Regions from separate parts of the Homo sapiens genome. Here region 1 is linked to region 2. Evidence: fine-mapped expression QTL. A gene starts in region 2. The other region holds a variant in brackets. All regions are shown on one strand. Distances are between the middles of the regions.

The links.
Region 1: its variant is fine-mapped to the expression of SBK1 in whole blood (TOPMed, PIP 0.98).

Annotation. Positions count from the first base shown.
Region 1 is chr16:28,312,638-28,320,959 of GRCh38, forward strand. It overlaps SBK1 (SH3 domain binding kinase 1), which reads left to right. Exons shown (of 4, transcript NM_001024401.3): 2 at 4,748-4,980; 3 at 6,358-6,560; 4 at 7,439-8,322. The coding sequence starts at 4,755. The coding sequence ends at 8,284. Among named protein-coding and RNA genes, the nearest start is that of SBK1, 24 kb to the left of the region's middle. The variant C/T (reference allele first, on the strand shown) is at 4,958.
Region 2 is chr16:28,289,147-28,297,469 of GRCh38, forward strand. It overlaps SBK1 (SH3 domain binding kinase 1), which reads left to right and starts at 3,379. Exons shown (of 4, transcript NM_001024401.3): 1 at 3,379-4,154. It overlaps LOC124903670 (a long non-coding RNA gene), which reads right to left and starts at 2,919. Exons shown (of 2, transcript XR_007065033.1): 1 at 2,621-2,919. RefSeq lists silencers at 2,871-3,042, 3,250-3,479.

The DNA.
Region 1 (8,322 bases), 23 kb after region 2:
GCACATGTTTAGGTGGAAATGAGCTAGGAAAGAAAAGACAGTTGCTGGAGAGGAAGTTCCTGTTGGAACAGGGGCAAGGAGGCCAAGTACAGTGGCTCAGGCCTGTAATCCCAGCACTTTGGGAGGCCGAGGCAGGAGGACTGTTTGAGCCCAGGAGTTCAAGACCAGCCTGGGCAACAAGGTGAGACCCCATCTCTACAAAAAATAAAATATGGGCCGGATGCGGTGGCTCACGCCTATAACCCCAGCACTTTGGGAGGCTGAGGCGGGCAGATCACCTGAGGTCGGGAGTTCGAGACCAGCCTGACCAACATGGAGAAACCCTGTCTCTACTAAAAATACAAAAATTAGGCATGGTGGCACATGCCTGTAATTGCAGCTACTCCAGAGGCTGAGGCAAAAGAATCGCTTGAACCCAGAAGGCAGAGGTTGCGGCGAGCCAAGATTGCACCAGGCAACAAGAGGGAAACTCTGTCTCAAAATAAAATAAATAAAATACGAAAAAAAATTATCTGGGCGTGGTGGCACGTGCCTGTGGCCCCACCTTCTCAGGAGGCTGAGGTGGGAGGATTGCTTGAACCCAGGAGCTGGAGGCTTCAGTGAGCCATGGGGGCACCACTGCACTCCAGCCTGGGCAACAGAGCGAGACCCTGTTTAAAAAAAATTTAATTTAATTTAAAAAACGACAGGAGGCTGGGTGCGGTGGTTCACACCTGTAATCCCAGCACTTTGGAGGATTGCTTGAGGTCAGGAATTCAAGACCAGCCTGGGCAACATGGTGAAACCCCATCTCTACAAAAAATACAAAAATTAGCCAGGTGTGGTGGCGTACACCTTGTGGTCCCAGCTACTCAGGAGGCTGAGATGGGAAGATTGCCAGAGTCCGGGATACAGAAGTTGCAGTGAACTGAGATCACGCCACTGCACTCCAGCCTGGGTGACAGAGCGATACCCTGTCTTAAAAAAAAAAAAAAAACATACTGACAGGGGAGATGAGCTGGTTCATGAATGGAGGGAGGCAGGAGGCTGGGAAGACAGGGATGGGAGCAGGCTGCAGGGCGGGGAGGGGAGGGTTCCTTCCTCCCCAGCCAGCTGAGAGGACGGTGCAGATGGAGCTCCGTTTGGGGCTGGGTGGGAGGCCAGGAAGTTCTCTCCTGATGTTCCTCCTCTCCGTGTGAAGTGGGAGGCTGGGTCGTGCCGAGAGTGAAGGGGAAGGCAGAGGAGGAGGAGAGGCTTGGGGCCTGGAAGGGAGCCGCTGGGCTGCGAGAGGATGCGGGGCTCATGGAGTGCTCACCCCCTCCCAGCCTCCAGCAATGCCCACCCGCCCGCCCACCCTTGCTCAGCCAGAGAGAAAGCCGGTGATGATGACGAGAACAACACAGCAAGCCTGGGCACCTATGGAGCACTTACTGCATGCCACATGCCAGGGCTTCACGCCTGTTAACTTACTTAACCCTCGCAAGAACGCATCGGGAGAAGGCACTGTTGTTGTTGTTGTTGTCGTTATTATTGTTATTATTATTATTATTATTATATTTAGATAGGGTCTCACTCTGTCATCCAGGCTGGAGTGCAGTGAAGTGATCATAGCTCACTGCAGCCTCGAATTCCTGGGTTCAAGCGATCCTTCTGCTTCAGCCTCCTGAGTAGCTGGGACCACAGGTGTGCACCACCACACCCAGCTAACTTTTTTTTTTTTTTTTTTTTTGTGGAGACAGGGTCTTGCTCAGGCCGGTCTCACACTCCTGGCCTCAAGCAATCCTCTCACCTTGGCCTCCCAGATTGCTGGGATCACAGACGTGAGCTACCTTGAGTGGCCCAACGCACTATTATTATATCCTTTGTATAGATGAGGAAACTGAGGCACAGAGAGAGGAAGTAACTTGCCCAAGGACATCCAGCTAGCAAGTGACAGAGTTGGGACTCAGACCCAGGCTGTCTGGCTCTACATCTGTGCCTTCTCCCAGAGGGAGCTGTGGTCATTGTTCTTCAGGGTGCAGGGGTGCTTAGGAGCAGGCTAGGGACACTGGAGTGACATGTCTGGGATTAGAGGGAGAAGGGGCCAGGTGCGGTGGCTCACGCCTGTAATCCCAGCACTTTGGGAAGCCCAGGCGATGGATCACCTGAGGTCAAGAGTTCGAGATCAGCCTGGCCAACATGGTGAAACCCCATCTCTACTAAACATGCAAAAATTAGCCAGATATGGTGGCGCACACCTGTAATCCCAGCTACTTGGGAGGCTGAGGTGGGAGAATTGTTTGAACCCAAGAGGCGGAGGTTGCAAAAAGCCAAGATCACACCACTGCACTCCAGCCCAGGTGACAAGAGAGAAACTCCGTCTCAAAAAAAAGGGAAAAAAGGGAGAAGGGAGTGCAGGGAGGGTAGAGGGAGGCTGCACCCGGAAGCAGTGCTCAGGGGCTGGAGGCTGGTGGCAGCTTCTAAAGGAGGCAGCCCTGGCCTCTCTTGCCAGTGCACACACAGATACATACTCATGTGTGCCTGCGCCTGGGAAAGGCTCATCCCCCATAGTCTACCTCTCTCCATTTACAGATGAGAAATGAATGCCCAGAGTGGTTGCCTGGAAGACCGGGGTTGGGGGGATGGGGTTTTAGAAAGGGGCAAAAGGAAACTTTGGGGTAATGGATGTGTTCGTGGTCTCGACGGCAGGGATGTATACATATGTCAGAATCATCACACTGTACACTTCAAATATGTGTAGTTTTTTGAACACCAAATATACCTCAATAAAACTAGAAAAATGACATGAGATAAGGGGAAATAAAGAAATGAAGGCCACGGATGGAGAGTTAGTTCACTGTCACCCACATGACAAGTCAGGTCTTAGCCCAAGTGGTGGCTCACGCTGTAGTCCCAGCACTTTGGGAGGCTAAGGTGGAAGGATCGCTTGATCTCAGGAGTTCGAGACCAGCCTGGAAAACATAGCAAGACCCCATCTCTCCAAAAAATTTAAACATCAGCCAGATGTGGTGGCGCATGCTTGCAGTCCCAGCTACTCAGGAGGCTGAGGCAGGAGGATCCCTTGAGCCCAGGAGTTCGAGGCTGCAGTGAGCTATGATCATCCTACTGCCCTTCAGCCTGGGCAACAGAGCAAGACCCTGTCTCAATACAAATACAGTTTTTTTTTTGAGACGGAGTCTTGTTCTGTCGCCCAGGCTGGAATGCAGTGGCACGATCTCTGCTCACTGCAGCCTCCACCTCCAGGGTTCAAGAAGTTCTCCTACCTCAGCCTCCCAAGTAGCTGGGATTACAGGCGTGCATCACCATGCCCAACTAATTTTTGTATTTTTAGTAGAGACAGGGTTCCGCCACATTGACCAGTCTGGTCTCGAACTCCTGACCTCAAGTGATCCGCCCACTCAGCCTCCCAAAGTGCTGGGATTACAGTTGTGAGCCACCATGCCCAGCCTAAATACAATTTTTGAAAAAGTCAGGTTGGCCAGGCGCAGTGTTCATTAGTCGGGTGGTGAGGTCGTCTGCAGTGGGGGAGGCACTGCCAGGCTGTGCTGATGTGTGGCCATGTGTATGGTGGGATGGTGTGGCCACATCTATACCATCCTGCCAGTTTGGCCTGAGACCACGTGGCCAAGGTATGTGATGATGCAATCATGGCCCTCAGACCTCTTCCCCACCCCCTACCTTATGGACAGCCATACCACTTTCGATCGTAATATACAACTGATGTGATCACTGTGTCTACTGCCCTTCTCCCCCTGGGGTGTAAGCCCCATGGTGGCAGGGAATCCTAGGTGTTTGTTCCATGCTGTGTCCTCCAGGCTTTGGAGAGCCCTGGGGAACAGCAGGTGCTTCGTCAGTACTTGTGAATAAGCTGGGCACAGTGGCTCATGCTGGTAATCCTAGTGCTTTGGGAGGCTGAGGTGGAAGGATCACTTGAGGCCAGGAGTTCTAGACCAGCCTGGGCAACATAAAGAGATGCCAACTCTACAAAAAAAAAATTAAAAATTAGGCATGATAGGTGCAGCAAACTACCATGGCACACGTTTACCTATGTAACAAGCCTGCACATCCTGCACATGTACCCCAGAACTAAAAATTAAAATAAATAAATAAAAATTAGCCAGGTGTGGTGGCACATGCCTGTAATCCAATCTACTCAGGAGGCTGAGATGGGAGGATAGCTTAAGCCTGGGAGGTCGAGGCTGCAGTGAGCTGTGATTGCGCCACTGCACTCCAGCCTGGGTGACAGAGCAAGACCCTGTCTCAGAAATAAAAATAACAACAAGCCGGGTGCAGTAGCTCATGCCTGTAATCCCAGCACTTTGGGAGGGCCAGGCAGAGGGATCACTTGAATCCAGGATTTCGAGACCAGCCTGGGCCACATAGTGGGACCCCCCTCTCTACAATCCAAATAAAACCAACGCTTCTGAATGGGAGTACCCGTGTGAACTCGGTATCTGGCTGTGTCTGTGTGACATAAACAGGGGCCTTGCCTGACACTGTGTGTGGGTGGCAGCATGAGGCAGAGGGGCTGGTGCCACCAAGCGCAGGGTCTGGCAGTGACTGGTCTTCGGGGAGCTGACTCAGGCCTGGCCCCTGAGGCTTTGGGGAAGGCGACGCGACCAAGATGCTTGTCGCCCCCTTGTGGTTATCTTGGGCCTGGCATCCGGGCCCATCCTCAAGTTTTCTGGGTTCTGGGGAGGGCAGAGGGGCTGGAGGAGGGGACCCTTGCCTGATGTCACACTTCATGCTCACCACCCCTACCCAACAGGGAGAAGATGAGCGTGGGCTGCCCAGAGCCTGAGCCGCCCCGCTCCCTGACCTGCTGTGGGCCGGGGACTGCCCCTGGGCCTGGTGCCGGTGTGCCCCTTCTCACTGAAGACATGCAGGCCCTGACTCTCCGCACACTGGCCGCCAGCGACGTCACCAAGCACTACGAACTAGTCCGGGAGCTGGGCAAAGGCACCTATGGGAAGGTTGA[C/T]CTGGTGGTCTACAAGGGCACAGGTGAACAAGTGCAGGGTGGCAGGGCTGAGAGGTTGGGGTGGGGCAGGGCTGGGAGGTCAGGGTTGGGGGACATGACCTTGCAGCTGGGCCGGGGCTCTCTGGTGCTCTGTGGAAGCCAGGAGGCAGGGTCAGGGGCCAGATGTAGAGGATGAGGCCTGAGGCAGCCCAGGGGGAAAGAGACTGGGCAGATGGGGCAAGGGAGGAATCCGGGGCAGAGTGGCCAGGGTACAGGATGGGCTGCTGTGGGGCCATCTGGGGTGACTTTGAGACAGCCAAGGGGCTGTGCCAGGAGTGTCTGGGGAGGGCAGGGCTGCCGGCTGTGTCTGAGTATCACCAGCGTCTCAGGGATGTCTGGCCCCAGGAAGGTGGATGGAGAGTGAGGGTGGTTCCTCAGGAACAGGGTGCCACACTTAATGGGTGGTGGAAGGACCTGTGAGGTCAATATTGCAATCACCATCTCTCAGGTGAGGACAGGGAGACCTAGGCCAATTCAGCCACATAGCCAATGCCCTGCAGCTACAGAGGCTGTGAACCAAAACGAGACCCCAGGAGTCATCTCCAGAGCCTTGTCGCTTAGTCACTGAGCTTGATACCTCCCCCACACTGTAGGTCACAGCCGTGCCACCCAGCCAGCCAGGGGCTGGGGCTGTGTGAGCTCCCACAGCTGCACGCGCTTGGGTCCAGGGGCTTTGTGCTAACTGAGGGCAGCAGGAGGAGCACCTAACATGGGGTCACCTGAGCTTTGTTACTTGCTTGCTGTGTGACCTTGAGCAAGTGACTTCACCTCTCTGTGCTTCAGAGTCCTTCTCTGTAAAATAGGGTAACATTAGTGCACAACCCATACAATCATAATGAAGTGTGAGTTGTGAATGTGCAGTGCTGAAGGCAGGGCCTGCGATGTGTAAATGCTCCGTGGACACACATGTGTGCTCCACCCAGCTATGTACCAGATGGGCACAGATGCTTGCCCAGGCACAGAGTTGTGGACACATGCCTTGCAGTGTCTCATTTCTTATTCATTCATCCATTTAGCAAGACAGGAAGCTTAGGGAGACCCGTTCTAGATGGGGTAGGCTGACAAGATAAATAAGCATATGGCGGGCAGGACAAAATGAGAGAGGTGGAGGGCATCACAGGCCCCCTCGCCCCCTCCTCTTGGAGAGCTGCAGAGTGGGTGTAGAAGGCTCAGGTTGACCCTGCCTGCATGGCCTTGGGCAAGTCCTTTCCTCTCTCTGGGTCTGTTCCCATCCGTGAGATGAGGACAGTCATGCCTGCTGGGGACCCTGTTGCACCAGGGTCCAGAGACAGGCATGGGTGCATCCAGTGCGGAGGCACTGGGAGAGGGGGCTTCAACCCTGTTGCTGTTGCTCCCATCAGGCACAAAAATGGCACTGAAGTTTGTGAACAAGAGCAAAACCAAGCTGAAGAACTTCCTACGGGAGGTGAGCATCACCAACAGCCTCTCCTCCAGCCCCTTCATCATCAAGGTCTTTGACGTGGTCTTTGAGACAGAGGACTGCTACGTCTTTGCCCAGGAGTACGCACCTGCTGGGGACCTGTTTGACATCATCCCTCCCCAGGTACTCGGGATGGTGGCATAGGGTGGGGAAAGGGTCTTCAGGGTCCCAGAGTGTGAGAGTGGGAGTGGAGTCAGACCATTTAATTAACAAGTATTTACTGGGTGCCTGCTGTATGTCAGTTACCATTTGGGGAGGTGGGGATGTGCAGTAAGGAAGACAAAAGTCCCTGTTCTAGTGGGAAACTGACACTCCACAGCGGGCCAGATAATAACAGATGGAGATGAGTGCCTAAAAGGAGACAGTGAGAATGATGGGATGAAGTCACTGGGCCCTCCCCTGGGGCTACACAAGAGGAGAGGTGTCAGATCCACCTGGGAAGGGGCCCTCAGAGGAAGCGACCCTGGAACCGGGACGGTGGGGGAGGGTTCCAGGCACTAGCTTTAAATCTGCTCTGCCACTTGCTGGCTGAGTGATGAGACCTTCGGAGCAGGTCCTCCTTCTTTGCTGAGCACCTACTACATGCCAGAATCTGGAGACACAGATGCACGGACACAGCAGGGAACAGGACGGGAAGCTCAGGGAGCCCCGTTCTAGTTGGGGAAGACCGACGAGATAAGTATCTAGCAGGCAGGGCAAAATGACAGCAGGTGGAGGGCGCCGCGGACCCCCTCATCAACCTCCTGGAGAGCCGCGTGTCCCTCCTGGAGCCCCGATGTCCCCATAGGAGAAGCAGGCATGGTAGCCACTATGAGGATTGGATGAGACAGCGGGGGAAAGGGCGCTCAGCAGCATCCGGGCCGCGTCTGCGCGGTCGCCCCAGTTACTGGGGACAGGGTGGGAGGCGAAAACCGCCTTGCTAGAGAGGGAGCTGGAGGGGAGGGCGGCGGGGCGGGCGCTGGAGAGCTGGAAACAGCGCGGCTTCCCCCGGCCGCCCGCAGGTGGGGCTCCCTGAGGACACGGTGAAGCGCTGTGTGCAGCAGCTGGGCCTGGCGCTGGACTTCATGCACGGGCGGCAGCTGGTGCACCGCGACATCAAGCCCGAGAACGTGCTGCTGTTCGACCGCGAGTGCCGCCGCGTAAAGCTGGCCGACTTCGGCATGACGCGCCGCGTGGGCTGCCGCGTCAAGCGCGTGAGCGGCACCATCCCTTACACGGCGCCTGAGGTGTGCCAGGCGGGCCGCGCCGACGGGCTGGCGGTGGACACGGGCGTGGACGTGTGGGCCTTCGGCGTGCTCATCTTCTGCGTGCTCACCGGCAACTTCCCGTGGGAGGCGGCGTCGGGCGCCGACGCCTTCTTCGAGGAGTTCGTGCGCTGGCAGCGGGGCCGCCTGCCGGGGCTGCCTTCGCAGTGGCGCCGCTTCACCGAGCCCGCGCTGCGCATGTTCCAGCGCTTACTGGCCCTGGAGCCCGAGCGCCGCGGCCCAGCCAAGGAGGTGTTCCGCTTCCTCAAGCACGAGCTCACGTCCGAGCTGCGCCGCCGGCCCTCGCACCGCGCGCGCAAGCCCCCCGGGGACCGCCCGCCCGCCGCCGGGCCACTGCGCCTCGAGGCGCCTGGGCCGCTCAAGCGGACGGTGCTGACCGAGAGCGGCAGCGGCTCCCGGCCCGCGCCCCCCGCCGTCGGGTCGGTGCCCTTGCCCGTGCCGGTGCCGGTGCCAGTGCCCGTGCCGGTGCCTGTGCCCGAGCCCGGCCTAGCTCCCCAGGGGCCCCCCGGCCGGACCGACGGCCGCGCGGACAAGAGCAAAGGGCAGGTGGTGCTGGCCACGGCCATCGAGATCTGCGTCTGAGTCGCCTCCGCCGCCCTCGGACCCGGGAGCAGCCCGGG
Region 2 (8,323 bases):
AGTGCTCTCTAAGTGCTAACATTCTGAGACTCAGCTTTTAGACACAGAATGTTTTCTTCCTGCTTTCTCCCTCTCCAGCCCCCTCTTCTGCACACCCAATAACTCAAATCCCTCTATTAGTTTATTTACGGCACTAAGGCCTTGGAGAGGATTAGAACAAAGTTAGAATGAAATCCGAAACTCCTCTACATTGGCAGGACAAGGAGTGTGGGAGAGGAAGGGAAGACACAGAGTTCTTAGAAGAGAACTTGTTTGGAAAACAAGGAGGAAGGGAAAGGTGTTCCAGACAGAGGAAACCGAGTAGACAAAGGCGTGGAGGTATCAAAAGCAGATGTCAGGCCGGGTGAGGTGGTTCACACCTGTAATCCCAGCACTTTGGGAGGCTGAGGTGGACAGCTCACCTGAGGTCGGGAGTTCAAGACCAGCCTGGCCAACAATGGCAAAACCTCATCTCTACTAAAAATACAAAAATTAGCCAGGCGTGGTGGTACACACCTGTAATCCCAACTACTTGGGAGGCTGAGGCAGGAGAATCACTTGAACCCGGGAGACGGAGGCTGCAGTGAGCCAAGATTGTGCCATTGCACTCCAGCCTGGGCAATAAGAGTGAAACTCCATCTCAGAAAAAAAAAAAAAACAAAAACAAACAGATGTCAGGGCTGGGCGTGGTGGCTCACACTCGCAATCCCAGCGCTTTGGGAGGCTGAGGTGGATGGAAGGCTTAAGCTCAGGAGTTCAAGACCAGCCTGGGCAACATGGCAAAACCCCATCTCTACAAAAAATACAAAAATTAGCTGAGCCTGGTGGTGCACACCTGTAGTCCTAGTTACTTAGGGGGCTGAGGTGGGAGGATCACTTGATCCCAGGAGGTTGAGGCTGTAGTGAGCCATGATTGCACCACTACACTCCAACCTTGGTGACAAAGTGAGACCCTGTCTCAAAAAAAAAAAAAAAAGACAGAGGCAGATGTCCTAGAATAGCGTGGCTGAGGTCAAGGCCGAATGGAGAAGAGAGGTCCTTTGTAGGGGAATGGAGAGCAGGCTCTAAATGTTAAGGGCTTTGAATGCCAGGATAAGTAAGGTTAGACTTTACCCTGATGGTACACAGGAAGTCCTTGGCAGTTTTATGTAAGACAGCAACCCAACCCCATTTGTATTTTACAGACCTGATGATCCCAAAGGATTTGGATTCTAGAAAAAAGACAATCACCAGGCACGGTGGCTCATGCCTGTAATCCTAGCACTTTGGGAGGCTGAGGTGGGTGGATCACTTGAAGTCAGGAGTTTGAGACCAGCCTGGCCAACATGATGAAACCCCGTCTGTAGTAAAAATACAAAAATTAGCCAGGCATAGTGGCACACGCCTGTAATCCCAGCTACTCAGGAGGCTGAGCCAGGAGAATCACTTGAACCCCGCAGGCAGAGGTTGCGGTGAGGCAAGATCGTGCCATTGCACTCCAGGCTGGGCAGCAGAGCAAGACTCTGTCAAAAAAAGAAGGAAGGTAGGAAGGCAGGAAGGAAGGAAAGAAGAAAGGAAGGAAGGAAGGGCGGGGAGAGAAAAAGAAAGAAAGGAGAAGAGAAGAGAAGAAAAGAAAAGAGAAAAAAGACAATCTAGACAGAGGCAGGAGGCCGACAAGTTAAGAACTGAAACAATATTCTCAATGGTAGAGGTTGCCAACCTATGGTCTGGGGGCCAGATTTGTCTGCAAAGTGTGTTTCATTTGGCCCATTCAATATTTCCGAATTTTGGGAATTCGTTTCAAACATTTAAAAGTTGGAAGATTTCTGGATGTCCTGCTTCTCTTTGAATATCATCCAGCCACGCACAGCCCACGATGTCTCCAGTTCCCCTCTTCTCCACCCTCTCTATCACTTTACATGCGACCCCAGTCGCTCATGTCTGCGCCTGTAGGTACTTGCGTTTGCAATCCCTGGCTCCTAAAGCTCTGGAAACAGTCGGGAGTGGCTGGGAGGATTACGCTGGGTTGAGAAAACAGCCTGATCAAAAACTTAGAAGAAATAGGGGCAGTCATAAAAAATGATGAGTTCATGTCCTTTGTAGGGACATGGATGAAGCTGGAAACCATCATTCTCAGCAAACTATCGCAAGGACAAAAAACCAAACACCGCATGTTCTCACTCATAGGTGGGAATTGAACAAAGAGAACACATGGACACAGGAAGGGGAACATCACACACCAGGGACTGTTGTGGGGTGGGGGGAAGGGGGAGGGATAGCATTAGGAGATATACCTAATGCTAAATGACGAGTTAATGGGTGCAGCACACCAACATGGCACACGTATACATACGTAACAAACCTGCATGTTGTGCATATGTACCCTAAAACTTAAAGTATAATAATAATTAAAAAAAAGAATGAAAAAGAAATGCTTTTGAAGCTTGAAGCTAAAAAAACAAAAAAAAAAGAAAGAAATAGGGAAGGCGTCCTATTGGGGCTTTCTCACTAGGGAAAGAGTGAGCTGCAGGGAGGAGAAAGAACAGGGCCTGGAAGGACGAGCTGTCCCTATCTCATCTCTGTCCCCATCCACCCACTTCATCCAGGCCACCAATTTCCGGTTATCAAACAGACAATGCAACATCCCTTACACCTGCTGTACCTCTGCCTAGAATCTCCTTTCTTCCCTTCTATCCGGCGAGCAGTTCCTCCCAGCTGCACTCCTGGACTAGTCACTGCCTATTTGCAGCAGGGATCGCAAAGGCGACCTCAGTTGGATAGGGCAACCACCCAGGCCCAAGTTTATGACCTCTTCCCCAAGAAGACTGTGAGTTCTCTGACGTCTCGCTGGAAATAGGATGCATGGATGGATGGATGGATGGATGGACGGACGGATGGATGGATGGATGGAAGCGCAGGCAGGCAGGCGGACGCATGGATGAATGAAATGCATATCCGAATGCAGAACCTGGATTTGTTTTCCCTCCTTCAAACACACACAGGCTCCGCCCCACTAGCACAGACCGGGACAGTCTGGGGCAGTCTCGTCCCGCAGGGCCCAGAAAGCTGGACCAGGTGACCCTCTCAGACTCCCCCGAGTCCTCTGTAACCTCGTTCTCGCCCCCTCGTGGGCTCTGACCTAGAAAAGGAGTGGGGTGGGTGGGGGGTGGGGGGTGGGAGCCAGCTCGGGAGCCACCGGCGCTAGGACCCAGCGCGGCCGGAAGGGGGTGGGGGCGCCGCGCGGGGAGAATCTGCGCTCCGCGGCGCGCGGCGGGAGGGCGGGCGCGCGGCGGGTGAGCGCGCTTGCGCGAGGGCGCGCGCCGAGCGGGACGGACAAAGGGGCGGGCGGCGGCGCGCGAGCCGGAGGGCGGAGCCGCGGGCCGGGCGGGCAGGTGCGCGCTGGCTGGAGGGCGGAGCCGCGATGCCGCGATGGAGCGCAGCCCGGGCGGGCGCCGGGGCCGGGGCCCGAGCGCCAGGCGGAGCGCGAGCTGGAGCCGCAGCCGGAGCCCGGGCCAGGCCGGGGGCCGGGAGCGCAGGGCCGGGCTGCTCGTAGCGGCGGCGACCGAGCCCCCCAGCGGCTGAGGGGCTTCCAGCGCCCGCCGGTGGCCGGGACCCACTAAAGCCCCCGCAGCCGAGGAGTGCGGGGAGCCCCCTTCCACATCCAGGATCCGGCGAGCCTCGGGGAAGAGGGGGGGCCCTCCCGGATCCGACACCGAGCGACTCCCCTGCGGGGAAAGCGGAGACTTCCTCGGTATTTAGAAGACAGCAAGCCCCCTACGGCACCGCAAGGACTCCCCCTCCTCAGTCTGGGCCCCCGCCCCAAGACCTAGAACGCAGTGCCCCCAGGCCGGGATTGCGAGAACCCCCTCCCAAGATCCGGTCATTACAACTCCACACCTCAAGACAAGAAGACCCAGCTCAGAACGCCCCTAGATCAGGGGATCCCAATTCCCCCCAACTCCGGTACATAGAAATCCCAAATCTAGGCAGCCGGGGACAGCAAGAGACACTCTCACCAGCAAGAAGCCTCGGGGATCCCCCCCCTAAAGCTCCAGGACTTGGGCGACTGAGCCCCTGGCGGCACCGCTTGCACCCCGGTCCATGGTCGTGGCGCCCTGAGCCCCCGGGGCCGGGCAGACGAAGACCGCGACGGCGCCCAGGCCCCCTGCCGCGGCGTCCCCGCGGCCCCAGCCCAGGTAAGCCGGGCCCAGGTGAGGGGCGGCAGGTGAGTGGCCACCGAGGTCCCCATAGCCCTGCAGGTGGGGAAGGAAGTATCGGGTTGCGCGCTCCCCCTTCCCCAGCGTCGCCATGGAGCCGAGGCTGAAGGACGTCTCTTTGTGTCTCGCTTGGAGGAGCCGCCCCCTCCTCCTCTCCCTTCCCCCACCCCACTCCCTAGCCTTGAGGCTCGGGCGCAGCTCCCCGGCCCCACGGAGGAGTGGTGGTGGAGCCCGTTGTGCCATGGAGAGGGGGGAAGAGGGCGGAGAGTCCCCCCCCAAAAGCTGCGAGCCTGGAGGTTGGCCCCCAGGTCCTTGGAGTGTGAATACCCCTCCCCCACGGCCAAGCTGAGCTTCTAGTGAAGTCCCCCCGAGAGGGGAAAATTTGGGGGTGCCCACAGGTGAGGGGGGCTGCCTTATGTGGCCCTGGGTGATGGCTGGGGCTTCGGGTGTGTGTCTTTGTCTGTGAGAGTGCGGGGAAGGGGTGTGTTTGAGCGGATGAATGGGAATCGCATCTTCCCTGTGACTCTGCTGCCCGACCCAGGCCACACTGGCGGTCTTTACCTAAACCATACTTTGTACTCCCTGTGGGACAGGGAGGGAGTAAGTACCCCCCAAAGTGAGGCGCTAGTTTCTGGGGAGGAGAGGTAGCCTAGATGAAGAAGCTATTTCAGGTCAGGGCACCGTTCTGTTCCCATTTGTCCCAGGGACAGCAACCCAAGTCTTTCCCTTCCCCTCCTAACCTGGAGAACACCCAGGTTAAACCAAGGGTTGGCTCAATGTGTCCCAGACAACCAAGGGCCAATTCCAGGGTCTCACTGTGGCTTTCCAGGTGGTACACACGGCCGTACCCCAGCCTGGCCCTCAGTGAGGTCCTGAACCCCAGGCTCTACCGCATATGAGGAAGCCGAGAGACCCTAGGGGACATTGTACCCTGAAATCCTGAATCAGATCCTGAGAAGGGGCTGGACTGCATGGAAAGAACACACTCTGGGCTGCTGGGAGTTCCTCTCATCTCTTCTCTCTGAGCCTTCTGCAGACAAGCAGTGATGCTGGACCCATTTGATAGGTGCACAAACTGAGGCTCGGGAAGGCAGGACCCAGGATACAGCTAGCCCTGCCAGTAGCTCCTTCACTTATTCATTCAACAAACCTGTCGCCAATGTCTGTGATGGACCATGCGCTAGAGTCAGGGTCCTTTTCCCCACTTCATTCCTATCTCCTTTCTTGATGTCTCCTGATCATCAGACCCCTGGGCACGTCCCATTGGGCCTGTTGAAGTGGACCGGGCCAGGTCCAGCTGAGAGATTCTTGACCCTACACCTGAAGCAGCTGATCCCTGTCCTGCTACAGCCTTGGGAGCCCTGAGCCTGGGTGGCTGACTCCTCATCTCCCACCTTCCCAGCACCAAGTGCCCCCACCCCCACCTGCTGCTGGCACTGACCCAAGGGTGAGGATGTGACCAGCTGGAGACGAGGGTAGGGGGCACTTGATGCGGGCAGACCTCTGGCAGCCTCTCCTGCCAATTTCAGGACAGTTGAGGCAGCCACCTTCAGCACAGGCTGTGGGGGAATCAGGTGCCCTGAAGACTGAGTGACCTTGGGCAAGCACGTGGCCCTTCCCAGAGAAAATGACAGAGAGTGAGCCTCTCTGCAGCTTGAAGGGCGGATGGAGATCGAAATTGGGCAGGACAAGCATCCAGGTTTGCTCTACCCATTGCTGAAGGAGTTCATTTCCCCCCAGTGGGGGTTCCCAGAAGCCCAGGGCTTTGTCACACACCCCACAGGCAAGGCAGTGGAACCAGAGGCTGAAGAGCAGAAATTTGAGTCACTGTGTCCAGGGCAAACTGTGAGGAGGCCAGAGGAGGACAAGGAGCAAGACCTCCCCTCCTCACTAACCTGCAGTGGCTCTCCATTGAGTCCAGAATCAAGTCGCTGAGTCCAGATAGTCTCTGGACTGCAGCCTGGCCCTAAACCACCTCTCCTAGCCCATCTCCTCCGTGTCCTCTAATTCTCTGCCTCCGTCACGTGCTCTTCCCCTGACCTGAAAAGCCCCACTCTAGGATGGCTCCGGAGCCGTTTTCTGCCTCCACCTCCCTTTTTGAGCTGACCTGAGCTGGCACGTAGTAGAGAGCTGAATTTGATTGGTTGGTGGTTTGGTGGCTTGGAGGTAGTGGCGTGTGTCTACATGTGCAGTGAGAGTTTGTCTCCACATCTAGACTCAGCTCCAGGAGACGGGAACCAGGTTTGTCTTGTCCATACTGCATCAGCATTGTCTAATTCAGAGCCCAGCGTATGGTAGGGCACGTGCTGTAAAATACAGCCTATAGACGATTTTTGTTGGTCCAATGTATTTTACATGTTTGTCTTTGTTGTGAGTGCTTAAAAAAAGTCGGGGGGAGGCAATTTCACATACAAAAGCTGATTTTTGGATCTTCTTGAAAAATCAGATGATGTGGCAACCTCAGGCCACAGCGGGAGAATGACCACCTTCTTTAGACAGGGCCCTTGCCTTCCAGTCCACCCCCAGGCAGCCGTTCGCTCCCTTAGGTCACCTCCTGGCCCCCGATGCTGGCATCTGGGTTTGCAGGCCCAGAAAAATCTTTTTTTTTTTTTTTTTTTTTTGAGACAGAGTTTCACTCTTGTTGCCCGGGCTGGAGTGTAATGGCGAGATCTCGGCTCACTACAACCTCCAGCCCCTGGGTTCAAGTGATTCTCCTGACTCAGTCTCCTGAGTAGCTGAGATTACAGATGCCCACCACCACATCCAGCTAATTTTTTTTTTTTTTTTTTTTTAGACAGAGTCTCGCTCTGTTGCCCAGGCTGAAGTGTCGTGGCACAATCTCGGCTCGCTGCGACCTCCACCTCCCGGGTTCAAGCAATTCTCTGCCTCAGCCTCCCGAGTAGCTGGGATTACAGGCACCCGCCACCATGCCTGGCTAATTTTTTGTATTTTTAGTAGAGACGGGGTTTCACCATCTTGGCCAGGCTGGTCTTGAACTCCTGACCTCGTGATCCACCCTCCTCGGCCTCCCAAAGTGCTGAGATTACAAGTGTAAGCCACCACACCCGGCCACACCCAACTAATTTTTGTATTTTGGGTAGAGACGAGGTTTCACCATGTTGGCCAGACTGGTCTCGAACACCTGACCTCAGGTGATCCACCTGCCTTGGCCTCCCAAAATGCTGAGATTACAGCCACCACACACAGCCCAAAAAATCTTTGTTCGGTGGGCAACCTTCGTCTGTGTGTGTTCTGCACTCATGGGTGTTCCCTCCCACCCCCATGGTCAAGTTAGAACGTGCACAGAATAGTGTCCACCCAGGGTCTTAAGGGCTATGTGGTGAAGTGAACCTGAACTTCTCCAGCCTGGTTCCACTTTCCACTCTTGATCCCATCTTGCACTCTTACCCCTGAACTAGTGACATCCAGCAACCAAAAACCTGTTTTCTCTGTCCCACTTGCCCCATGTGTCCCAGGGACAGCAAACCCGAGTCCTTCCCTTCCCCTCCTGACCTGGTTCTAGGTGCAGGTCTTGCTCAGGACTCTTGGGGCAGGGCTACTGTCCAGGGTTCCGTTCACCCCTCTGTCCACAGAAGAACTGGATGAAAGCTTCTTGTAGCTGTAAGTTTCTTCCTTCTAACTTTCTAGGACTAAGTCCAAGCTGGTCTAAGTTTTGGTCAGGCAGGAGAGCTGGGGGCCTAATTATAGGAGTAACTAAAAAATATTGGTCAGGTGCGGTGGCTCACACCTGTAATCCCACCACTTTGGGAGGCTGAGACAGGTGGATCATTTGAGGTCAGGAGTTTGCGACCAGCCTGGCCAACATGGTGAAACCCTGTCTCTACTAAAAATACAAAAAATTAGCCAGGTGCGGTGGCATATTCCTGTAATCCCTGCTACTAGGGAGGCTGAGGCAGGAGAATTGGTTGAACCCAGGTGACAGAGGTTGCAGTGAGCCGAGATTGTGCCACTGCACTCCAGCCTGGGTGACAGACTGAGAGTCCGTCTCAAAAAAAAAGAAACAAAAGTTGACATTTCCTGAACAGAAACGAAACTGATGGGCATTGTGGAGTAGCTGGGCCAGGGGCCAGCAGCAGGCCCCTGTCACTGGGCACAGCTCTAGAAGGGAGTGCACCCTTTTTCTGAAC